Linked DNA regions of Homo sapiens: all the other regions are linked to region 6. Evidence: fine-mapped expression QTL. A gene starts in region 6. Each other region holds a variant in brackets. All regions are shown on one strand. Distances are from middle to middle. Region 1 overlaps MBTPS1 (membrane bound transcription factor peptidase, site 1). Region 2 holds the start of LOC105371378 (a long non-coding RNA gene). Region 3 overlaps MBTPS1 (membrane bound transcription factor peptidase, site 1). Region 4 overlaps MBTPS1 (membrane bound transcription factor peptidase, site 1). Region 5 overlaps MBTPS1 (membrane bound transcription factor peptidase, site 1). Region 6 holds the start of MBTPS1 (membrane bound transcription factor peptidase, site 1).

Evidence for each region. PIP is the estimated chance that this variant, and not a neighbour inherited with it, causes the effect.
Region 1: its variant is fine-mapped to the expression of MBTPS1 in whole blood (TOPMed, PIP 0.93).
Region 2: its variant is fine-mapped to the expression of MBTPS1 in neutrophils (Naranbhai 2015, PIP 0.91).
Region 3: its variant is fine-mapped to the expression of MBTPS1 in whole blood (INTERVAL, PIP above 0.99). The same link has a PIP of 0.9 or more in T cells, esophagus muscle, lung, monocytes, subcutaneous fat and tibial artery.
Region 4: its variant is fine-mapped to the expression of MBTPS1 in monocytes (TOPMed, PIP 0.99). The same link has a PIP of 0.9 or more in T cells.
Region 5: its variant is fine-mapped to the expression of MBTPS1 in whole blood (INTERVAL, PIP 0.98).

Annotation. Positions count from the first base shown.
Region 1 is chr16:84,079,886-84,083,885 of GRCh38, reverse strand. MBTPS1 (membrane bound transcription factor peptidase, site 1) reads left to right here. Exons shown (of 23, transcript NM_003791.4): 11 at 1,978-2,139. Among named protein-coding and RNA genes, the nearest start is that of MBTPS1, 35 kb to the left of the region's middle. The variant T/C (reference allele first, on the strand shown) is at 1,637.
Region 2 is chr16:84,781,914-84,786,089 of GRCh38, reverse strand. It overlaps LOC105371378 (a long non-coding RNA gene), which reads right to left and starts at 1,494. Exons shown (of 3, transcript XR_001752293.2): 1 at 775-1,494; 2 at 603-678. The variant C/T (reference allele first, on the strand shown) is at 2,260.
Region 3 is chr16:84,057,413-84,061,412 of GRCh38, reverse strand. It overlaps MBTPS1 (membrane bound transcription factor peptidase, site 1), which reads left to right. Exons shown (of 23, transcript NM_003791.4): 20 at 600-731; 21 at 1,985-2,111. Among named protein-coding and RNA genes, the nearest start is that of SLC38A8, 17 kb to the right of the region's middle. The variant A/G (reference allele first, on the strand shown) is at 1,565.
Region 4 is chr16:84,089,940-84,093,939 of GRCh38, reverse strand. It overlaps MBTPS1 (membrane bound transcription factor peptidase, site 1), which reads left to right. Exons shown (of 23, transcript NM_003791.4): 5 at 119-229; 6 at 643-752; 7 at 2,092-2,208; 8 at 2,998-3,065. Among named protein-coding and RNA genes, the nearest start is that of MBTPS1, 25 kb to the left of the region's middle. RefSeq lists an enhancer at 1,192-2,391. The variant A/G (reference allele first, on the strand shown) is at 2,467.
Region 5 is chr16:84,074,267-84,078,266 of GRCh38, reverse strand. MBTPS1 (membrane bound transcription factor peptidase, site 1) reads left to right here. Exons shown (of 23, transcript NM_003791.4): 12 at 3,526-3,670. Among named protein-coding and RNA genes, the nearest start is that of SLC38A8, 33 kb to the right of the region's middle. The variant T/C (reference allele first, on the strand shown) is at 1,875.
Region 6 is chr16:84,115,388-84,119,387 of GRCh38, reverse strand. MBTPS1 (membrane bound transcription factor peptidase, site 1) reads left to right here and starts at 2,446. Exons shown (of 23, transcript NM_003791.4): 1 at 2,446-2,653. It overlaps MBTPS1-DT (MBTPS1 divergent transcript), which reads right to left and starts at 2,345. Exons shown (of 1, transcript NR_186375.1): 1 at 225-2,345. It also overlaps the pseudogene LOC648774. RefSeq lists an enhancer at 1,716-1,875 and silencers at 2,026-2,125, 2,526-2,955.

The DNA.
Region 1 (4,000 bases), 36 kb after region 6:
ACTCTCAGTTGTAAAAGGATGTCTTTGGGGCTGGCATTTATCTTGTTACTGTATTTTCCCCAAAAATAAATTGTACTTCTTCTATCTAGATGAAGTTTTAGTTGAGTGTTGTGATAACACACAAAACTCTGCGTATTTGGAAGTTATTCTATGCTAATTTAAAAATTAATTAATATAGGCAAATAGTATTAAATGTCTTTATATTTTAAGTTCTCTTTAAGTAAATTGAATATTGATTTCAGCTTCTGATGCCAGATATTATTTTGTTAGTAATCCTTAATAAAGCTAGATACTTGGCTGGTTGTGGTAGCTCACACCTGTAATCCCAGCACTTTGGGAGGCCAAGGCAGGAGGATTGTTTGAGGCTAGTAGTTTGAGAGCAGCTGGGGCAACATAGTGAGACCTCATCTCTACCAAAAAAAAAAAAGGGGTAGATATCCATCTCTTTCCTCCTTTCTCTGTTCTTCCCTTACAGTTTGCAGCCAAATTCTTGAGAATGTTGACATTGGCCAGACTGGCCTTTGGAGAATAACCATGTGCTTGCTGGAAACACTGTCTTCTCTTGCCGTTGTTTTCCTCTCTCCAGTGTTATATCAAGTGAGGAACAGAGTGGAGGGAAGGTGGATAGTGGGCTACCTGGCCTGTTTGCACACTTGTATTTGCCAGGTGGAGAGAATTCAGTTAGGGCTGCAGCTTCTAATGTTGTTGATTCTGGAAACAGAAAATACTGGTTCATTTCTCCTAAACGCCATGATTGTTAGCAGGAAGTGAGGGCTCTGCCTTCACTGTTGAGCCCGTCAGCTCTCTGCTGTTGAGTAAGCGGGCAGCCGAGGGGTTGTTCCTTTTCCCAGCAGCTTCTTTAAGTACAGATATTTTCAGCAACAAGGAAGCCTTTCAGTCTCCTCATCTCCCTGCAGCAGATGAAACTGCCGTTGTGATCTCTGTGTGTGACAGTCGCTCATAATGGAAGCCGAGCAGCAGTGGCGGGCCTCCCGAGCTCCAGCCTGATGATGCTGTGAAAGGCAGTGGAACGCAACCCTTGAGTTCACTTTATAGGCAGGAAGAGGAGGAAGATTGTTGACCCATAGCTTTGAGCACTTCTTTTCTTCTGTCATTAAGAATCTACTTTATCTCCTCTACTTATGTCAGATTTCCCATTTAGAAAACCTGCCTAGACTCCAACACCAAACATCATCACATACGAATATTTAGGAACTTAGGAGAGTTAAGTTTTCCTTTTTTGTGTACTGATATTCCCACCTCAATTTTAGGAATTAAAATTCACTTGTATTTATAATACATAAATACACAAAAATGGATGTTGTAACGCTAGTATCACCAGGCTAAGTTCCTAGCCAGGTCACACTGTGTGTTAAAGCTTGTTCAGATGCATTCTCATGGTGAAACTGAAGGTGGCCTTAGGTCTATGTCGTTCTGAAAGGCATCATCCATCAGGGTGGCTCATCCCAGACAAGCCTCCCAATCTGGAAACAAAAAGGCAAGGATTGGCTTTGGAGGCGGCGGTCCTCACTCAGACCTGTGCCTCCTGCTAGTCCTGTGTCGTGGCCCCTCCCCAGGATCTGAATGTGCTCCTCCTTCTCCCAGCCAGGCGGTGTCCCATGGCATCTTCTTCCTG[T/C]GACCAGCAGGCTTCCTCTCCCCAGAGGAGTCAGTACCTCCTATACATTCATGCCTTCTGCAGCCTATGTGGTTGTTTAGTTGAATTATCACAAAAATATGTGTTACTGATGCATTTAGCATAAGTGGGTCCCGTAGAAGGTTGCGGAGTGGTCAGTCCTGGATTGGGTACAGAGATGAGTGTGCACTCATTCTCTCATGCAGGCTGTGCCAGACAAGCACCTGTTGGATACTAAACAAGACTGCAGGCCTCTTGTGTGCACGTTTGTAGGTTAGGTTTTAGTGGTCCAATTTCCATTCTTTTACTGAGAGAAAATAGGCAATTCTTGATTTTTCCTCCAGCACAGTCCAGAAGCGTGAGCTGGTGAATCCCGCCAGTATGAAGCAGGCCCTGATCGCGTCAGCCCGGAGGCTCCCCGGGGTCAACATGTTTGAGCAAGGCCACGGCAAGCTCGATCTGCTCAGAGCCTATCAGATCCTCAACAGCTACAAGCCACAGGCAAGGTCAGTGCACCGCCCTGCCGATGGGTCTTTCTCTCCTTCACTGGGCTCTGGGCGAATTTTCCCTCTGCACAAAATACAAGCCTCAAAACAGAAAATGATGACTAAGCACAGAATTCTCGGGGTGCTTGGAGAGGTTTTGCTGCTGCTTCTACAGGGTGCTGCTGGCAGAACTGGTAGCTGCTTTCGCTTACTGATGTGATCTTTAATATAAATGGTTAAAAGTAATGATTTCTGAGTGGTTTTTTTGCTTTTGTTGTTTACTTTCTTAGACTCTTGAAATAATCTTAGGTTTACAGAAATTTTGCAGAAATAGGAGAGAGTTGTCCTACAAGGTTGCCCAGTTTCCCCTGATGCCACCATTTCAGATGAGTGGAGTACAGCTGTTAAAACTGTCATACAAACACTGACACTGTGCTGTAATTCACCTGCAGACCACATACATCTCGCCAGCTCCTGTGGTACTCCCGTCCGGCCTGGGCCCTGCTTTGTTTTCACCCTTATTTTGAAATGATTTTAGATTTACAGCAAAGTTTCACAAATAGTTCATGAGAACCCCTGAGTCCTTCACCCAGCTTTCCCTCACCTTAGTATCTTCCATAACCTCAGTATGAGCGTCAGAGTCTGGAAATGAACCTTGATGTAGCACTGCTGACTGACCTGCAGGCTTCACGCAGATTCCGCCCATTGTCCCACAGGTCCATTCTCTGGGATCCAGTCCAGGATCCCACATTGGATTTCATTGTCCTGTCTTCTTGGTTTCCTCTAATCACAGACGGTTCCTCCGTTTTCCTTCATCTTGTTATTGGGGGTATTCATTTTCATCATTTGATTAATGTGGTCTGTCAGTCTGGGTCCTCCAAGAAGCAGACGTCAAGCTAGGATTACATGTTCAAAAGATATGTGGGGAGTGAGGGCCTCTGAAGGATAAAGGGAAGGGTGTGGGAATAGGCAGGAACTGCAGTGCTGATCTGACACCGAAAAGTTAGGAGGACTGGGGAGGAAGAGGCTCGCACAGGCCTGAAAAAGTTTTGGCTGATGGGAAATCCTTGAACCAGATTGCCTGTTGGAGGAGTCCTGTGTCCCCCCAGAATGGGCCTGCCCTGGTGCCTCCTGTGTGCTTAGTCATTGGCTGGGAGCAGCCCCAGGGGAAGCGTGGCCTTGGCACAGACGTGTGAGGACCTGAGGGTGGCAGCTGCGGGTGTCAGCCAGCAGTGTCCTGCAGAGGAGACCTGAGCTGCTGGCCCTGTGGGGCCAGAGGTGGCTCCTGCCAGGTGTCTCCACTGTGCAGCCCGTGTTTCCTTTGTGACTTCTCAGTGTCTTGTGGGGGCATGTTTCGAGATGGCCTTGTTTCGTCACATACTTCCACTCACTCATGTTAGCATGCCTTGATGGTTCTTGCCTTTGGTGATTACTCCTGACAACTTTGACACGTGATGATTTTCTTTTTCCTTCATTCCATTTACATTGATTAATTGGAACTCTCCTGGAAGGAAGAGCTGTCCTTTCTGTCCCATTTATTTATTCAGTTCTTTACATCAGTGTGGACACATAGATATTTATTTTACTCTGTGGATTATAATTAATATCATTTAGTGGGTCGTTCAAATTGTCCCCGAGTTGGCTGTTGGGAGCTCCATCTAGTTGGCTTATGTGTGTTTTCAGCATGTGTCCAGCCTTTTCTGAGCACTTTCTGTCTTCCTGGCAGCACAGGATGTCCTGTCATGCACCTCTGTGCTCTAGCCTTGGTATCAGTTCTGTCTCCAAGCAGCTCTTTGCTGATGGCCTCTTCTAAAGAAATCAAGACCTGGGCACTCGGGGTGCTCCAAGCTGCTGTGCTCACAGTGGTTACTGCGCTCTTCGG
Region 2 (4,176 bases), 670 kb before region 6:
CCGGTCCCCTGTAGCTCAACATCTGATATCCATGGACACACTCCAGGTCTCAGACCCTAGCCTTGGAAGCAGGCCCGGCTGCACCCTTCTTTCGGTCACAGCAGAGGACCCCACTGAAGACTGCACTCCGGCGCAGTGAGGTGCGGCCTCCCAGTGTGGCAGGGAGCATTTGTAGCCACAGGAAACAGGGACATCTTCCTAGAGAGTGAACTTTACTCATTGCAAAGCTAATATACTTTTTCAAAAATATGACAATTAATTTTTTTTTGAGACCAAGTGTCACTCGGTCGCCCAGGCTGGAGTGCAGTGGCGCAATCTCAGATCACTGCAACCTCTGCCTCCCGGGTTCAAGGGATTTTCCTGCCTCAGTCTCCCAAGTAGCTGGGACTACAGGTGCATGCCACCATGCCTGGCTAATTTTTGTATTTTTAGTAGAGATGGGGTTTCACCATGTTGGCCAGGCTGGTCTCCAACTCCCGAGTTCAGGCAGTCAGCCTGCCTCAGCCACCCAAAGTGTGGGGATCACAGGCATGAGCCACCACACAGCCAAAAATATGACACATTTTATGTCACTGTATTAGCCCTAAGGGGGCGCCGCTCACCTGCCAGGATGCCAAGGGTGCATATTTCAATGGAAAATTGAGGCACTGACTTCTCTCTGCAGAGCCCAGGAGTAAACTGTATGTGATAAAATAAGACAAGAATGTCAGGGTCTCTTGCCAGCCCCATGGGTATCAGAAGCTCTACTTTAAGCAGCAATAAATAAGTGGTTACCTGTGCAGAGAGGGACAGACAGGTCAGCTGCGCTGAGTCCCAGACCTGTGTCTTCTGATGGAAACAGGAGGAATGAGGCAGAGACGGGGTCCTCAGATCTGGAAGGCAATCAGCACCTTACAGGGAGGCTTTCAGTCTTTTAAAGCAGAGGAAGAATTTTTTTGTTAAATCAAATGGAGAATACCATCATACTCAGAAAATAGGCAAAAATAATTGCTTTCTTTGAAGGACACGTGGGAAGTCCAAGGTCAGGGTTATTAGACCCGACCCAAGAAAGCCAAGGCTATACCTCGAAAACCAGGGCACGTGGCCTGATCCCATGAACCAAAACACACTCCAGAGGGGTTGTTAAAAAAACAAAACCAAATAATAGGGGAAAAAGAAAGAAAAAAGACACAGAGTTAGATTTTGTCTAGTTCTCAAATGTGCCAACAACACAGGCACCCCTCAGAAAGTTCCTATCAGGGGACTTTTCAAATACACAAACACAACTGAGCAGTGTATTGGCTTGAAACAGGCAGCATAAATGAAGCTACTCTAATGTTTTCGTTATTAGAAAATCAAACAATAAACACTTTCCCCCAAAACAGAGCAAGAACTTAAACGGGAGTCTATGAGAAAATGAAAGGGATAAAAGTTTTTATAGGTCGTCCGCGGTGGCTCACACCTGTGATCCCAGCACTTTGGGAATTCGAGGTGGGTGGATCCCTTGAGGCCAGGTGTTCAAGACCATCCTGGCCAACATGGTGAAACCCTATCTCTACTAACAATACAAAAATTAGCTGGGTGTGGTGGCGTGCACCTCTAATCCCGGCTACTAGGGAGGCTGAGGAGGGAGAATCGCTTGAACCCGGTAGGCGGAGGTTGCAGTGAGCCAAGACCACACCACCGCACTCCAGCCTGGGCTACAGAGTGGGACTCTGTCAAAAAAAAAAAAAAAAAAAAAAAATTATAAAAAATATCTTAAGCATATCACTGTGTGAAATCCTAGAGTCAAAATAAAATAGTTTGCAAATCCCACAGCAGCAAGCGCTGTGTAAATTCCCTTTACTGAAAATACAGCACAGAACAGTGATTTCCAGGTTTGCTTACTTGCCAGTTGTTTCCAAGGAAGGGCCACTCAACGAAATACTACTGTGTTCAGCAAATCAGTGCCTAGCAAATGATCCCGTATCCTGACCACAGAACAACAGGAGACACAACTAAATCCGTGAAACAAAATGCATGTACGACCAAGAAGCAAACGTACAATTTGAGTCCCACTGGAAAAAAATGTACACTTGCTCATTAAAATGATGTAACATGTCTTACTGAGGTGGGGGATGAGCAAAGGGAGGGAAACAATCAGAAAAGAGAATGAAGCATTTGGTCACTAGTTCATAAAGGAACATCACCATGAGGTAAAGCCAGCAGATGCCATCGGGTGCATTTCATTTTCGAGCAAGTTAACTTTTCCCCAAAAGGTGCAAATAAGATGGGAACGGC[C/T]AGTCTAAAAGATGAATAACACTAAAACAAACAAACAAACAAACAAACAAAAACAACAAAAAAAACCCCAATTCCTAGGAAGCCAGAGAAAATGTCTGAAGAAGGCAGAACAGTGTCTGCTCGGTGACTTTTGCTGTGACTGATTTTAAAGGAAAAACATGCCGGGCGTGTTGGCTCATGCCTGTAATCCCAGCACTTTGGGAGGCCGAGGTGTATGGATCACGAGGTCAGGAGTTCAAGACCAGTCTGGCCAACATGGCGAAACCCCGTCTCTACCAAAAATACAAAAATTATCTGGTGTGGTGGCAGGTGCCTATAATCCCAGCTACTCGAGAGGCTGAGGTAGGAGAGTCACTTGAACCCAGGAGGTGAAGGTTGCAATGAGTTGAGATTATGCCATTGCATTCCAGCCTGGACAACAAGAGCAAGACTGTCTCAGAAAACAAACAAACAAACGAACAAACAAAAAACAATAAAGGAAACACAAAACACTTCGTGTAGAGTTGGCTATTACCACTTGGCCTTGCTAGACACGGATTTTAAAAACACTAACATTTTGGTCTAATCTCTTTTAAGTCCACTGACCCTCAGGAAATTGGTATAGAGATACTGTCTTCACTAGGCTCAGTCAAGATATTTTTCCTTCTTGAGCCAGAGAAGTACCAGAAAAACTGTGAGTCTTCTGTCTCTTGCTGTTTTTAGTTCTTTTGATGCACTCAGCACTTCCCAAGAGAAATGAAGCCAAGAGACTGCTGTGTCCACACTGCTACAACTTGCTCATTCTCATTGACTCATGAACGTGAGTTGGCTGTACAATACTAGCTCACTGGTTTATTGGGTTATTTCCCATAGTTCAAAAGCCACTGACTTGGACTATGCTTGTCACTTTGTAACCAGTTGGCCTGGTCAAGTATAAGCAGTCTATGACAGCAATAATCAGAAACGTCACCAAATAAAAGACATTCTAAGATGATGCCTTTGCTGACTGCAAAGTTCCTGCTCACGTTGCCCACACATTAGACTAGGATGGTATGACCAATGACATCAAGCAATGAAAGCAGGGGCTGGGCACGGTGCCTCACGCCTGTAATCCCAGCATGTTGGGAGGCCGAGGCAGCTGGATCACCTGAGGTCAGGAGTTCGAGACAAGCTTGACCAACATGGTGAAACCTCGTCTCTACTAAAAATACAAAATTAGCCGGGTGTGGTGGCACATGCAGAACAATCGCTTGAACCTGGGTGGTGGAGGTTGCGGTGACCTGAGATCGCACCGCTGCACTCCAGCCTGGGCAACGAGGGCAAAACTCCATCTCAAAAAAAAAAAAAAAAAAAAGAGAGAGAGAGAGAAATGAAAGCAGAATGCCACTGTGAGCCACTTGGGTGGCTGAACCATAGTTACACCAGTGGAGGCCAGAATGACCTCCATTCTCCATCCTGCCTCAAACACACAGTGGCTTGCGCTTCCTTGGCTAGTGGACAAATAACATACCAACCAGGTAAACTTCATGACATCTTCCCTGTAAGAGAACTTCCAAGTCTTGTTGTCAACAACTGACAAATGCGAGGAAAATCTCCCTATAACATACTAAAAATGTAACCATTCACTGCTTTAAATGCCACCTACAAAGGCATGTTAAATGATAATGAAGGAAAATCACTAAGTCTGTAGCCTCAGCACCAAGGTTAATGAGCAAAGTTCCCGAAGTAAATAACCTAAAGTTAGGAGACCGTACTATGAAACTTACAAAAACATTAAACGTTGCAACATAAAATGGAAACGTTGTGCGTTAGGGTTCTCTAGAGGGACAGAACCTATAGGTAGATGTATATATAAAGGGGAGTTTATTAAGGAGTATTGACTTACAAGAAGGGGTCCCACAGTAGGCCGTCTGCAGGCTGAGGAGCAAGGAAGCTAAT
Region 3 (4,000 bases), 58 kb after region 6:
CATGAGGAGCTGAGTGTGGCACTCAGGCAGTTGGTGCAACCTGGTGGACAGTGGTGCTGACCACCTGGAACCCTGGGGCACTGGGAGTGGAGCCCTGGTCAGGTCATGGCTGTGTGTGCTTATCTGGCTGGGCTGGGCCACTGAGAATGCATGTCTTATGAGAATAGGGGAATCTGGAACATGTTGGATTTACTTTGACCTAAACTCGTGACTTCTGAACTCCCATTTCCCCCACTTTTGGGGACTAACTTAAAAAAAATTCCTTTAGAGATTTCTTCTTAAAAGCTAAATTCCGGGCCACGTGTGGTGGCTCACACCTATAATCCCAGCACTTTGGGAGGCTGAGGCAAGAAGATCACTTGAGCCCAGGAGTTTGAGACCAGCCAGACCCATTTCTGCAAAAAATAAAAAATTAGCCGGGCATGCTGTCATGTGCCTTCAGTCTCAGCTACTTGGGAGGCTGAGGCAGGAGGATCACTTGAGCCCAGGAGCTCAAGGCTGCAGTGAGCTATGATTGCGCCACTGCACTGGGTGACAAGAGCGTGACTCTGTCTGGAAAAAAAAAAAGGAATTCCTAAACAGGCTTGTTGACTTCGCAGACTGCTTTTGGCTTCTGGATGCCCTCCTCCAGTACACATCGTATGGGGTGACACCGCCTAGCCTCAGTCACTCTGGGAACCGCCAGCGCCCTCCCAGTGGAGCAGGCTCAGTCACTCCAGAGAGGATGGAAGGTGAGTGGATGGGCAGGATGCCTTGGGGAGGGAATTGGATCCAGCTGAACATGATGCTACTTCAGCCAGTGGCTGTGCCTGCCAGCAAGTGGGGCCAGTTTGTGTGCGCCGCTGAGTGGTTTTCGTAATGGCTGCGGGTAGAGCAGCACTCAGCGGCTCTAACCTGCCGAGAGGCCATCCTTAGTCCCCAGAGGGCCATGATCGAGGACCCAGTGTGCAGCTGCTTTCCCACGTGCACCCCGACCCTCACGCCACTCTGAGTGTGTTTACCGTCCCGCTCTCACAGGTGAGGACAGTGGCTCCTACAGATCTTCAGGAAGAATCACCAACATTCTAGAGCACTTGCCAGGTCCCATGCAGCAGGCTGGGATGCTCCCATGGATTACCTCACTGTCCCCTCTCAGTAATCCTGTGAAAATAGATGTTATTATTCCCAGTTTCCAGATGAGGAAATGAGAGCTGAGAGAAATTAGATAACTGCCTGAGATCGCCTGGGCGGTATGTGGTGGTGGAGCCTCAACCCGCCTCTGGGGCCTGTGCTGGTGCCGTGGGGCCGCCAGCTGCTTGGCACTTAGTGGGGTGGGTATCAGTGCGTCTAAGTCCCTGGTGTGCTGGTCCTTACAGCGCTGCCCGTAGAAGGCTCATGGGAACCACAGGCATCATTTAAAATTTTCCAGGAGCTGCGTTTAAAAAGTAAAAAGAAACACAGATGAAACTATTTTAATAATATACTTGAGCCCAAGACATGAAGAATATTAGAATTTAAACACGTGATACCTTATTTCACTTGCTCAGTAGCTACGTGTGGTTGGCACAATGGTGCAGATCTAAGA[A/G]ATAGAAAGAATTTTGAAAATGCAGAGTGGTTTTTTATTTGGCCAGAGAATTAAATATTTTAGAAGAGAAGTATTTTTTCCATGAAACCGGTCTGTAGCTTAGATTTCGCAGGTGTAGCCTTGCGTGTGTCAGTGGTGGTCAGCAAAGTTTGACCAGCCAGTGCTGTGCACACATCTGCCCATCTTCAAGGGAACGGTTCTGATTTTCTCACCCACCTTCAGCAATGGAAACACACATTGTCCGGGAGGAACCAATCAGGCGTGGCTCCTGCGGCTCATGGAGGATAGCTTAATAGAGCACAGGGGCTCTGTGCTGTGTTGTGGGAAAGCAGACAGACTCATAATAAGGCCCTCCTTTTTCCTTTGCATTTTAGTAATAGAGATGATTTTCCTTTTTGTTGATGTTGCTGCTAACCACAGGAAACCATCTTCATCGGTACTCCAAGGTTCTGGAGGCCCATTTGGGAGACCCAAAACCTCGGCCTCTACCAGCCTGTCCACGCTTGTCTTGGGCCAAGCCACAGCCTTTAAACGAGACGGCGCCCAGGTTAGTGTCCGCCTGTGCCCTTCCACTCTTTCCACGGGGCTTGTGAGTCATTGCTTTTCTTATAGGAGAGAATGGAATTTTACTGACATCACTATCGAATTGTCAGATCTTCAAGCTTGTCATTTGCGACAGTTATTTAGTGAACCTCGTATTGGCCTTTGGAAATAGGCTCTTTGGTGGTATCCTGCATAAAAAGTGCTTTGGATAATTAGCATTTTGTTACATTTGGTTAATTCTTTTTTAAAAAGCTGGGATCCAACAGAGTGATTTCATGGGAGCTGGAGCTCTAAGTCCTGTGGTTGGGGAGTTAAGAGCTGCCGGCTGCAGTGTGTTCCCTGTTTCAGACATTGATGATAAGATACAGATAGTTCCCTTCTTCTGTCATCCCCGGGGGCCGCGGTTGCAGCCTGTCCAAGAAGAGCATGCTTCTGTGTCATTACGTCCTGTGCTGACTGTGACTGGGGGTGAAAGCACCCGCCTCCGATGGCAGGCTGTGACCTCTGCTGCTGTCTCCACACTCCTGTTTGCAGTGCCGCCTGGATCCCTTCTCCAGCTCACTAACTCGGCTTCTTCATTTGCATCGTTTCCTTTCCGTACCCAGTGTTTGAGGTGGACCTGCTGTTTCCCTCTGTGGCTAGGACCAGCTCGGCATGGCTGGTCCCCTTTTTCTCCAGATGCCACCCCCTTACTTTTTCTGTGACGTCCCTGGCCCAAACAGGACAATATAAGAAGAAAGGGGGAGCTTCTCCTGAGAAAGGGGATGAAGCCAGGGACAGCTGTCAGAGCTGTGTCCGTGGCCGGGCAGGCACACCTCCCACCCCATCAAGCAGGAGTCTTGCCCTCCGAGGCCCCCTGGCCGCCTGGTACCCGGCCCCTCTCCCCAGCCCCTCAGGCAGGAGGCTACCCTCTTGACAGGCCCCCTGCCTGCCTTCTTTTCCTCCAGTGATGGTATGGGGCCAGGGACGGAGGCCACCTTCCGTCCTGTAAGGCGAAGAGGAGAGTGCCCGTGTGAAGGTGGCGAGGCTGCCTTCCGCCTTTACTCCTCATCATAAACCGAAAGTGCTGAACACACCACGCACTGACCGTATGTCTTCATTTCGAATATGCTTAATAGAACACAGGAAAATGGTAGAATCATCACATTGTCTCATCAGTAGCTTTCTTCCTGAACCTTAATCACTGGGTACTTTTCCATTCCAGTTCACATCTCATCATTTAAACATTTCTGATAAGTTTCCATTTTTGCATCTTATTTATTTATAACCTTCTATTAGCCTAGCATTCAAACCAGCATTTATATTCCAGCCATGGTCAGCAATTCATACTCAGTGAACAGTGTTAGCTGAATTTCCAGAAACCCAATTATTCTCCACAGTGTTGTTCAGGACTTGAAGCAGATAACAATATCCTTTCTATCCTTGGCTATCTACCTGTTCACATCAAATAATCCATCACATACTGAACCGGCCCATCCAGCATGTTGATAATGGACAGCTCCTGGAATTTGATTTTCACAATCACTCAGTAATTCCTTCTTCTCAGTACGCTGCTGGGTTTTACATTTATCTTGCTTTTCATATCTTGTTGAAAATTATTCTCGGTCCCCAGAGACCTAGATCGACGCATATTCTGAGTCTCCAAAAGAGATTTGAGACCAGGAGACAGCTCCAGATGCTGTCAGCCCAGTGCTGGGGGCAGGCTTCCATCTGTGAAGTGGAGAGGCGCTTTGGGCTTCTTCGTTGGCATCAGGTGCCCATACCTAGGGCAGCTGTGGAAGTGTCAGCGTCCTCCCTGAGAGGAACTCCTGCTCCGGTGGCTCCTCAGTCCTTCCGTCAGTATGCTGTAAAGCACCCACATGGTAATGGGTGTGGACTGTTACCATGACTGCT
Region 4 (4,000 bases), 25 kb after region 6:
TTGGCCTTCCACAATATGTCATTTTCTGTGGGTCCCAGGAAGGAATGTATTTTATAGGCAAAATCCAAAATGATGATTTCTTCAAACATAATTGTGTTTGCTTTCTTTTCCGAATAAGGTGCTAATGTAAGAGTTGCTGTTTTTGACACTGGGCTGAGCGAGAAGCATCCCCACTTCAAAAATGTGAAGGAGAGAACCAACTGGACCAACGAGCGAACGCTGGACGATGGTGGGTCTCAGCAGCAGTGAGAACGTGGTCATGTGATCGACTGAGAGTGTGTTTAGTGCATGATTCCACAGTCTGTCCAGCAATTATTCAGACAAGCCCAAGGTGTTATTGTGCTTTTTGTTGTGGCAGAAACTGCTCTGAATACCTCATAGGATGTCGGGAGGTAGCACTTCAGGAGAGAGTGGGCATGCCTGGTGTGGGGGCAGCTCCCTGTCCCGGAGAGCGTGGAGTGGCTAGACCTGGAAGGGGTGCTTGTGCCAGTGACGTCTAAGGGGATCGTAGAGCAGCAGCAGAGGCCCTCCTCTATCCAGCACTTGGAAATGGAAGGCCGTGGAACTCATGGCCTGGAATGTTGCGTCCTGGCACTTGCTATTCAGTGTGTTTTATGGGATTGTTTTCTTTATGGACTGCAGGGTTGGGCCATGGCACATTCGTGGCAGGTGTGATAGCCAGCATGAGGGAGTGCCAAGGATTTGCTCCAGATGCAGAACTTCACATTTTCAGGGTCTTTACCAATAATCAGGTAGGTGTTTTGAGGACTCCTGAAACTTGAGGAATTCATACTGAAATGTAAAAAGCAGAATCACTGGACTGTACACACTTGTGTAAAAGGAGTGCACGTCAGTGACGCTGAGCCATTCATACTGCAGCACGCATGCTCAGTTTACTGTTCCTCTGCCTCCTGGGTGGCTCCGCCCTTCTCCCACCAACCACTGTGTCGACCTAAGTTGAACCCTGAAGACCCTGCCGAGGCTACTACTTACGACGATTCTTTGATTTCCCTTGTTTCTTCTCTACCTCCAGGCTTCCCCAGGCCTCTGTACCCTGGGTCGGTTGTCTGCATGATAGAACAGAACAATTGCAGATAGAATAAGTGTGCTTGCCTCCCTGATTGGGTTCCTACCACCTTGAGCTGTTTTATTTACCTCTGTGTCCCGACACCTGGCATTGTGTTGGGTAATGGGAGTTTACAAGCCTTGTTCCTTCACTCTTCATTTGGAAACTATAGAAAAGGGAGAGGGTCCTAGTATTTGTTTCTTTTTTCGTTATTTATTTTTTAAGGTTAATTTTTGAATAGGTAATGCATAGCTCAGAAATGTCAGAAGGTAACACAGTGAGACCCCCACCCCTGTCCCCGTCCAGCAGGTTCTTTCCTCACTGGCCCGTGTGTCCTGTGTGATGATGTTCCTTTCTTATACCTCCTCGTAGAATTTCTTTGGTGTATATGAGAAAATATAAGTACCTGGTCTTTTAAAAACCTTTAAAAACATAATCTTAATCATTACATTGCTTCTCTTCCTACCATAAACTTAATTTTATATTTTTTAAAAAAGCAACAGCTAAAGGTGATCCACAAAGTAATGAAGCTTTTGTAAGGAACATAGGAGCACTTGAACATCAGAAGACTAATACTGTGAAATAACTGTTACTGCTGCCATTTGTCCTTCAGTCTGTTTAGGAATGAAGAAGGTTAGATAGATAAGTTGAACTATTCCAAAATGCTTAACTTAATAGAAGTGCCTTGGGATAAGTCCTTTTGTAGGAGAGGGGCGGTTGGGAGCTTGGGTGTTATCTAGGAAGGCATTCTTTGTGTAGAGAGCTGTGCATTTCACCTAGAGAGATAGGCCACCTGCAGAACACAGCTGCCTCTTCCTTAGGTTCAGCTCCAAGGACTTAGAACTTCTACGTGTTGTATTTTACTCTCCAGAGCATTATGCATGCTCAGGATTCATTTCTGGTTTTAAGTAAAAAAAAATTAAGAGAACTACTTGTAATTTTAAAAGAGCCTTAGAAATAAAAACTGTCCTAGCACTTTAAAACTTGATTGAAACACTAAGCAGACTGTTATAATATTTAACTAGGTATCTTACACATCTTGGTTTTTGGACGCCTTCAACTATGCCATTTTAAAGAAGATCGACGTGTTAAACCTCAGCATCGGCGGCCCGGACTTCATGGATCATCCGTTTGTTGACAAGGTTTGTGGAGTCACTGCACACGGGGTTTGGGTGACAGCTCCTGCTCTTTCGCAGCCCAACTTTGCATCATATCTAGTGTGTTGGTGGCTTTTCATCCAGGTGGTGACAGCTTTGTGAGAACAGATGGCTAATGACGTGAGCTTCAGTGATTTGCATGTCATAAATTGAGTGGGTTAGAGGCCTCAGAGTAGGTGTTGATAAGGAGCACATGGTGCCTTGCTGATTTTTTTTTTTTTTTTTTTTTTGAGATGGAGTTTT[A/G]TTCTTGTTGGCCAGGCTGGAGTACAATGGCACAGTCTTGGCTCACTGCAACCTCCGCCTCCCAGGTTCAAGCGGTTCTCCTGCCTCAGCCTCCCAAGTAGCCGGGATTACAGGTGCACACCACCATGCCCGGCTAATTTTGCTATTTTTAGTAGAGACGGGGTTTCACCGAATTGGCCAGGCTGGTCTCCAACTCCTGACCTCAGGTGATCCACCCACCTCAGCCTTTCAAAGTGCTGGGATTACAGGCGTGAGCCACCATGCCCTGCCAATTCTTTCTTACCTAAACATGCAATTCGTGTTTTCCTCAAAGTGACTAGAAAGTCAGCATCTGCTCTGTGCACTGCGTGCTTCTCCGTCCCGGGTGGTATCCTCTAAAAATGCAAGTTGCCAGCACATCCGCCTTTATAATGGGCCAGTGCTGCTTTTTTAGAACTGTTTTTAGACGTTGTGTATGGTTTTTTTTTTTTTTTTGACAGTTATATGTTTAATGAAAGGGATACTTTCATTAAATAAATGCTCCTTTTGTAGGTGTGGGAATTAACAGCTAACAATGTAATCATGGTTTCTGCTATTGGCAATGACGGACCTCTTTATGGGTAAGTAGCCCCAGCAGGGATGACCTCGGGGATTTTTTCCCCCTTAAATAACTGAAAAATTGTTATCTGTTTGTGTATCTACCTATGGTTACTTGTTTATGTCTGTCTAAAACTTGTCTTAAGGATGTTTTCCTCATGTAAAAAAATACTATAGGATGTAGATGAACACCCAGGTACTCACCACTCACCTCAGCAGTTGTCACCTCAAGGCCGGTCTTCCTTCTATTTATATATTTTTAAAATTTTGTTACAAATAGTAATTTAGAGGCCTAAAGTTTTTATTCTAACTACTTTTTTTCCCCAAAAATCAATCAGAAAAGTGAATCTATTAGGGATTCTGCAGTGTTGATGAGATCTGTGTGCAAAGCATCCGGGTAAAGAGGCAAACGGAAGAGGTTTCTGCCTCTCTCTGAAAGAGCAGGTGCGAGCACAGTGACACTCATTCACAGGGGAAGTGCTGGCGGGCCTAACGGCAACATGGCCGGTGCTTTGGGAGTTGATGAGAGGGATCATTTAGGAGGGAGGCAGGGAGGACAGTGTCACAGGGGGGCCTTTGTGCTAAACTTAAGCAGCGTGAGATGCGAAACATTTGCCACTGAATCCCAGCCAGTACGCTCCTGTCTGGTTAGAGGTCTCAGTTTTCTTTCCACCAGCAGCTTCATTTTATTCTCTAGATAATGTTTATAAGTCATTTCTTGTGCTCGAAGTTTCTGTAGGATGCTTTACACAAATCCAGGGCATAAGACAAGGTGAAGCTATGTGAAGTTCATGTTTGCATATCAGAAAACGTGAATATTGGCATTCATAGGACTCTAGCCTAATAGTTGAGTAAATGATCGTGAACCTTGTTAGAGGTCCAGGGTTCTGGATTTTGCTGTCGCATCAGTGATACGTATCATGAGCCATAGATGTAAGTGGCATGAACATACCCTCGC
Region 5 (4,000 bases), 41 kb after region 6:
GTAACTTAGGTAAGGTGGCACTGCTGGTCCGGGTCGAGAGCGCCCGGTAGCTCTGTTAGGTAAGGTAGCACTGCTGGTCAGCGTTGAGAGCATCGGGTAGCTCTGTTAGGCATTGCTTTGTTTCTCTGTGAAAGGGTTGTGCCTTTTGGTATTGCGTGAGCAGTGTGCGTGAGTGCCGGTTTCCCCAAAGCCTCACTGACAGAGTGCTCTGTCTTGTTATTTTTACAAATCTGATTGGTAAGAAATGGTATTTCAGTATTGTTTAATTTGTGTTTCTCTATTTATGAGTGAGTTTGAACACCTAAGTCCATGTTTAAGAGCTTTTTTTTTTTAAGCTTTCTTGTGAATTGTCTGTTCATTTCTTTTTCAATGGGGTTTTTGGTCCCTCTTTAGAGTTCTCGATATATGAGTGTTAGTAACCCTCCGTCAGGGATGCATGTTGCGGATTTTTCTGCCACTTTGTCAGTTGTCTTTTGACTTAGTGTAAGGTGTTTTTGCCATGCAGTTGTTTTTTAATAGTCACATTTGTTACTCTTCAGCTGATGCCTCTGTATTTTGAGTCCTTAGAAAGTCTTTTTCTGCACTGAGGGAGGTAAAAGAGAAATTCACCTGTGTTTTCTTCTAATATTTGTTTGCTTTCTTTTATTTACTTGAAATTCCTTGATCCATTTGGAGTTAATTTTTGTGTATTGTTTGGAGGTAGGGATGTAATTTTTTCTTTTGCCAAATGGCCACCCATTTGTTAAAGCTCTTGTGATTAAAAAGTCCATCTTTGCCCCAGTGATTTGAGATACTGTCTTTATTATGTACTAAGTTTTCATATGTATTATGTCTATCCCTGAGCTTTCCATTCTGTTCCACTGGTCTGTCTGTCCATGTACTGGTACCACACTGTTTTGATTATAAAGACTTTATAGCATGTTTTAATATCTGTTAGTGCTAGTTCCCCTTGTAATTTTTTTTTTCGTTGTTTTCTTGGGTATTCTTTTCTTTCTTTCTTTTCTTTTCTCTCTCTCTTTTTTTTTTTTTTTTCTTTTTTAATGCAGCAGGGTCTTGCTCTGTGGCTCAGGCTGGAGTGTAGTTGCATGATCTCAGCTCACTGTAACCTCTGCCATCTGGGCTCAGGTGACTGTCCCGTCTCAGCCTCCCAAGTAGGTGGACTGCAGGTACATACCCCCATGCCCCGCTAATTTTTCTATTTTTAGTAGAGACAGGGTTTTGCCATGTTGCCCAGGCTGGTCTTCAACTCCTGGGCTCAAGCCGTCCTCCCGCCTCGGCCTCCCAAAGTGCTGGGATGACACGCGTGAGTCACTTCACCCGGCCCTTCTTGGCTATTCTTGCATGTTTGTTTTCTTCATATGAATTTTCATATCATCTTACTTAATTCTATGAAAGAAGCTTGTTGGAATTTTTGTTGCAATTGCATCAAATTTTAAATGAACTTAGAAGTAATATTTTTATAATGCTGTTATTTTGTCTAAGAGCAAAGGATATGTTTCCATTTGCTCTTGTGTGTCTTCCAGGAGGTTTTACAGTTGTCTTCATATAGGTTTTACACATTTCTTGGTAAGTTTAAGTATTTAATCTTTTTGTTGCTGCTGTAGATGGGGCTTTCTCTTCTTGTATATTCTCTAACTGGTTGATTTTATTTCTATATGTTAATTTTATATGCTGCTACCTATCTGAATTATTGTTTGAGTTAGTTTTATTATTGCTTCTCTAGGGTTTTCCAGGTGTACTAACCTACCATATGGAAATAAAGATAGTTTTACATCTTCCTTGCCAATTCTTAAGGCTTCATTGATTATTTTCTGTCTAGTTGCATGGGCTGGTATATCTAGCACAGTGTTGAACAGCAGGGGAGAGAGTGGCTA[T/C]CCTTACGTTGTTCCTAATCTTAATGGAAATGCCTCTTGTATTTCTCCGTTAAGTAAGATGCTGGATTTATCCCTAAGGTGTGTATATCTATATATATATGTATATATTTTTTATTGTGTTAGATTATCTGTCTAGTGCTGTTTTTCTGAGCGTTTTCATGAGGACTGTGGATTGAATTTTGTATGTTTTTTCAGCATCTAGAAAGGTAATCATATGAATACTTTAGACCTATTAATATATATGGTTTATGATATTAATGAGTTTCCCAATATTGAACCAATCTGTAATAAATGCCACTGGTCTTGCTATTTTGTTTTCTTAATATGATGTTGAATTCTGTTTGCTAATAATGGTTTCCTAGTTAAATCATGTTGAATTAGTAGTCGAATTAAACTGATTACAGAGCACAATTACCAGCAAAGTTTACAAACACATTTCAAGTAGAACAGATACCTTTGCTGATGCATACAATTGTAGTCACATGGCCGATCCATTCAGGATTTTTAAAACTAGGTAGTACCTATTTCCTTTTCTTTTTCTTTTTTTGGTGAACTTCAGACTTGTGAAGGTGGTATCTGTTGAGATAACTTAACTGTGATATGTGTTGATTATAACTGCCTGTGAAAGTCACAGTATCCCTAAAGATATTCCATTTGGTTTCTTAAATAGCAATTCAGTTGGCCCAGATACATCTTTGTTATTACAAACTAATAAAAAGTACTCCTTATACCGTAGTTGCTGTTTGAGAAAGGCTGGCATCTCCTGTAATGAGGTGAAGCAGTTGCGCAGAGCCGCCCGCCCACTGCACGTGGGTGCAGCTTGAGAAGCAGGATCCACGTATGCCTGGTGCTCTCAGGGAGGCCATCGTGGGTCACGTCTTGTCTGAAACATTTGTCTGTTCCTGTCTTTTCACCTGTTCGGGCGTAGCTGACACCGCTGCTGCACTAGGAGTGATGTGAACCCAACACAAACTCAGTTCAGATAAGGGGAAACCATGAAACCAACATAATTGCCAGAGCACTTGTGTCAGCACTTCTGACACAAATTATGTCAGGGTCCCCAGCACCTCTCCCAGGCTCGGTGCTTTAGGGCTCACGGGACTCAGCCTGTGGTCATACTCCCAGCTAAGATTCATTATAGTGGCACAGCAAGGATGCACAGCGGCTCTGTAAGGGAAAAAGATGCCTCACACGGAGAAAGCCTGGAGAAATCCAGGCGCAGCTTCCTAAGCTCTCCCCTCTCTCCTGCCAGGCAGGGTCTCACAGAGCTGGCCCCTTTCCTAGCAGCAAGCTGCATTGACATGTGTACGTGTTTTTGCCCAGGGAAGCCCTCTAGAGACTCAAGTCCAAGTTTCCATTAGGGCTGGTCACGTACTCATTCTCTGCCAGTGACAACTCCCAAAGCTCCAGACTTGCAAAAGCAGAGGTGTCCCTGCACATCACACTGTCTGTATAGACAGCAGGCTGGCACAGAGGCCTTATCTGTGCAGGAGCATTCCAGAGCCAAGTTCCCAGATGCCAGCCTAGGGCAGCGCTGTAAGCAAGCCCTTCTGAAGCTAGGTCTGCTTTGTTAACTCTGTCTTGTACAGTTGTGTTGCTTCATTGTAGTTTTCTCATATGATCTACTCTAACACTGTATTCTTTATTTCAGTTTGAGCCCCAGCTACATAGATCTGACTGAGTGTCCCTACATGTGGCCCTACTGCTCCCAGCCCATCTACTATGGAGGAATGCCGACAGTTGTTAATGTCACCATCCTCAACGGCATGGGAGTCACAGGAAGAATTGTAGATAAGGTGAAACTTCTCTCTGACTTGGTCTCTGACTTGATGGTGAACTTAGACACAGCCCAGACCTTTAGGCCATAGTTACTTCTGCTGAAGTTAAAAAAGGAAAAGTTCTAGGCCGAGGAGAGAGGATCACTTGAGCCCAGGACTTTAAGACCAGCCTGAGCAACAAAGTGAGACCTGTCTCTACAAATAATAAAGAAATTAGCCAGGGATGGTGGTGTGTGCCCGTGGTCCCAGATACACAGGAGGCTGACGTGGGAGGATCACTTGAGTCTAGGAGGTTGAGGCTGCAGTGAGCCAAGATCATGCCATTGCACTCCAGCCTGGATGACAGAG
Region 6 (4,000 bases):
TCCAAGATTTTGATGCTCTCAGCAAAGCCACCCTTGCCAAAAAAGCAGCCTGCCTGTAGTGCCACCGGCAGGTTTACTAGGACCTCCAAGATCTCTGCAGAGTGGCTGCTGGGACTCCAGGAGCCACAACTCCAGGGAGGCTTTCCCAGGGTTGGCTAGTGCCTGTGCCATCAGCTATTACTCTTTAAAATAACATTTCATTTGAATAAAGATTTACCTTCCCATGGAATTACAGATGCTTTATTCTGTATGTGAAGCACAAGTTTAGGAAGTTATTTTAGAACCAGAGTGGTGGGAATCCACCAGTGGTAGACCAGGATCCTGTAGCTCAGGCTGTCTTGGTAGCTCTCCAAGTAACTTCTCTCCCACACACCAGTCCCCTCAGTGTATAGGCATTCTCTGAAACTGGTGGTGGTGGCATTCTCTCCCCTTCTTTGGGGCCTCGCTGTCACATGATGGATGCCTGCAATCACTGTTCTACCCCAGTTTCCAGCTGTAGGGCCATGTATTCAATGGCATAGTGACTAAAGGGCTGTTCAGAGAACCCTGACCAAGATTAATTTACCTAAAGTTGGAACAGAAGGACATAGTCAAGTTTAAAATCAAATGCTTTGTGTGGTGGCAGAAGGGAGTGCCTTTGACGGTTTGCAAATGCAGAGAGGCAAGGATTCTCCAAAAGTTCAGAAAATCGTATGAGATCTGAGTCAGGAAAGGATTCAAGAATCCACCACCACATATTGAATCATATAGGAGCCGAGCACTTTATGAGTATGCTTTTTGTTTGTTTTTGAGACAAGGTCTTGCTGTGTTGCCCAGGCTGGAGTGCAGTGGCACAATCATGGCTCACTGCAGCCTCGACCTCCTGGGCTCAGGCAGTCCTCCCACCTCAGCCTCCCTAGTAGCTGGGACTGCAGGTGCACACCACCACACCTGGTAAAAACAAAACCAAACACAACTATAGAGACATGTCTCTGTTGCCCAGACTAGTCTCAAACTCCTGGGCTCAAGTGATCCTCCCGCCACAGACTCCCAAAGTGTTGAGATTACAGGCATAAGCCACTGCGCTAGGGCTTATGTGTGTACTTAATTTAACCCTCATCCTTTAAGGTAGATATTAGTACCCCTATTTTTTAAAAAAATTATTTATTTATTTTTAAGGCAGAGTCTCGCTCTGTCGCCCAAGCTGGAGTGCAGTGGTACGATCTCAGCTCACTGCAACCTCCGCCTCCCAGGTTCAAGCGATTCTCTGCCTCAGCCTCCTGAGTTGCTGGGATTACAGTCATGCGCTACCACACTCAGCTAAGTTTTTATATTTTTGGTAGAGCCGGCGTTTCACCCATGTTGACCAGGCTGGTCTGAAACTTCTGACCTCAAGTGATCCGGCTGCCTCGGCCTCCCCAAGTGCTGGGATTACAGGCGCGAGCCACCCCGCCTGGCTAGTACCCCTATTTTTGTAATGAAGAAGCTGAGGTACAAAGAGGTTAAACAACCTGCTCAAAATTACGAAGTAGAAGCCTGAGGTGGGGTATGGTAATTTGTGATTCTACATTTATCCACCATATTAAGTCAACTGTGTTAAATCATGTTGAAGGAAGATGATGCGCTGTGATCTGTAATATTGGTGCAGTTCAGCATTACCGTGGTGCAGTGTCAAGTTCCAAAAGACACAAAACTGTCTGATCGGCCTGTAGCGCATCACCGCCCACCAGCAGTACCTGAAGACGCTTTCAGTCCCCTGCTAGTGCCGTACGGAGTCCGGGCTGGTCCATTTACATTGAAAACAAACTGATCCTAGCATCTAAGTCACCCAGACATCTTTTAGGCGGCAAGCTTTTCAGACAGTTTAACACATTTATTCTTGTTTTTTCAAAAAGAGCAAACACGTGGCGTTACAAAGGTCCTCCGTTTCGCACGCACCGGTGTCCCGGCAGCGCGCTGCGCGTCGGGAGGCCCAGTCTGTCGTCCCGTGGGGCCGGGGGTCAGGAGGTCGGGCAGGCGGGATTTGGGGTTTCGCGTGTTCCGGACCGGACACTTCGCCATCTTAACGAGCTACCGCCCGGGTTAAGGGGCACCCAGGGCAGGTGCCCGGCCGGGGGTGGGGTGTCCGAGCCGCCGGTGCCTGGACGTGGACCCCTGCAGGAAGGGTCCGCGCGGGAAGCGAGCTCTCCACGAGTCCATGACAGCAGGCCCGCGGGGGCAGGGAGCCTGCGCCAGGCAGTCTTTCTAGATCCTGGCCCAGCCTGGCCGCTTTCGCGCCCGTGCTCCTTTTCGGGGATCCTAGAGCGACGCGCAGAGCGGACCAAGGGTTCCCCCAGCGCGTTCTCGCCGCCTGGCAGCTCGCTGGCCACGCCCCTCCGCTTCCACCCTGCCACCGGCCCCCGCCGCCGCAAATGTCGCGAGACCTTCGTCCATCCTCCCGGCGTGGTCCCGCTGCCCACGGCGTCCAGAGCGCGCACGCAAGCCCCGGGAGCGCGGGACAGACAGGGCACGCTGGGTCGGCGGAGCTGAGGCTCCCAGCTGTGGGCCTCGCTGGCCCGGTCGCCCAGTCTCGCGAGAGTTGGGAGTAAACAGCCCCGAATGGAGTGCCCAGGCGTGTTCGCCGCGGAGGCGCCGTTATCCCGGGCCCGCCGGCCCTGAGCTCCCGGCGGCGCAGGTACGTCAGCCGCCCGCGCGCGGCCTCCCCGACCCGCTCCGCCTAGCGGCGGCGGCCCGCTCGCTCAGGTGTGCCGGTTGCGTCCGAGGCCCCGAGGCGAGGGCTGCGGGGGCCGGGCCGGGTCGGGGGAGGTGGGCGCGGGGCCTCCGGCGCTTGTTTGGACACAGCGTGCCTGTACCGCGGCCCTGCGGGGGTCTGCGCGCTCCGGCAGCTTGTTCCGTTGCCTGGTTTTCTTTACGTGAAATGAGCATTCACCGAGTGAAACAATACGCCCTGCTCTGGCCCGGAGCCTCCAGACAGACTCAATTCTAGGTGCGCTTCCGGGGCAGTGCTGGCGTCAGGTTTAAAAGACGTCGATTCTTTGCCTTATCTCGGTCTGTGCATATTGCGCTGCTGGTTTTTGGAAATGCGGGGATTCTGTTCGGCGAACTCTCAGAACCAGATTGCCTTTTAAACCTGTAGCTTCTTAAAAATCTTGCCTCGCCTTGGCATGGTTGCGCTACCTAAGACCGTTGTGGATCGTCAGTATTTTTATTAAGATGTTTACCTTTCATATTGGGTTGAGCCCCTGAGAATCTTGGCCTATTTGTCTACACAAATTAAGTTATTAGATTCTGATTGACACTTCGAAATTACGTGGAGTGGAATACGACCTGCGTTGAATTCTGGAGACTCATCCTTTAGTCTGAACTGTGTAGGTAAGCCCTCCTAACGTCAAGGTCTCCAATTGTATGTCTACGAAAAGGAGGGCTTGCAGAAGAGAAGTAATTCCTCTCATTTTTTTTTTTTTCAATCTGGAGAATCCGCTTTTATTATTTATACTTATTTTTTAATGTAAGAGCTTCATTGAAGTAGAATTTACATACCATAAAATCCACCTGTTTTAAGTGTACTATTCAGTGGTTTTTAGTAAATTTACAGCAGCACAGCCACTACCAAATCCACTTTTAGAACATTTCCGTTACCCCAAGACCTCTGATGCCCAGTTGTAGTCAATGCCCATTTCCAGGCCCCGCCACAGGCAACCTTTCATCTACTTTGTCTTTCTAGATTTGCCTTTAATGACTATTTCGTATATTCAGATGGAAACATATGATATGCGGCCTTTTGTGTCAGGCTTCTTTCACTTAGCATGTTTTCACAGTTCATCCATGTTGTAGCATGAATCAGGATTTCATTCCTTTTATGACCAAATAATATTCAGTTGTATGGCTATACCACATTTTGTTTAAGCATTTATGCAGAACACTTTTGACAAATAAAAGTTTATTTTATGCTCTAATGTGTGATGCGGATGACAGCAAAACTGTTGATTGAGAATGGGAGCTGGGACCTGACCCAGACACG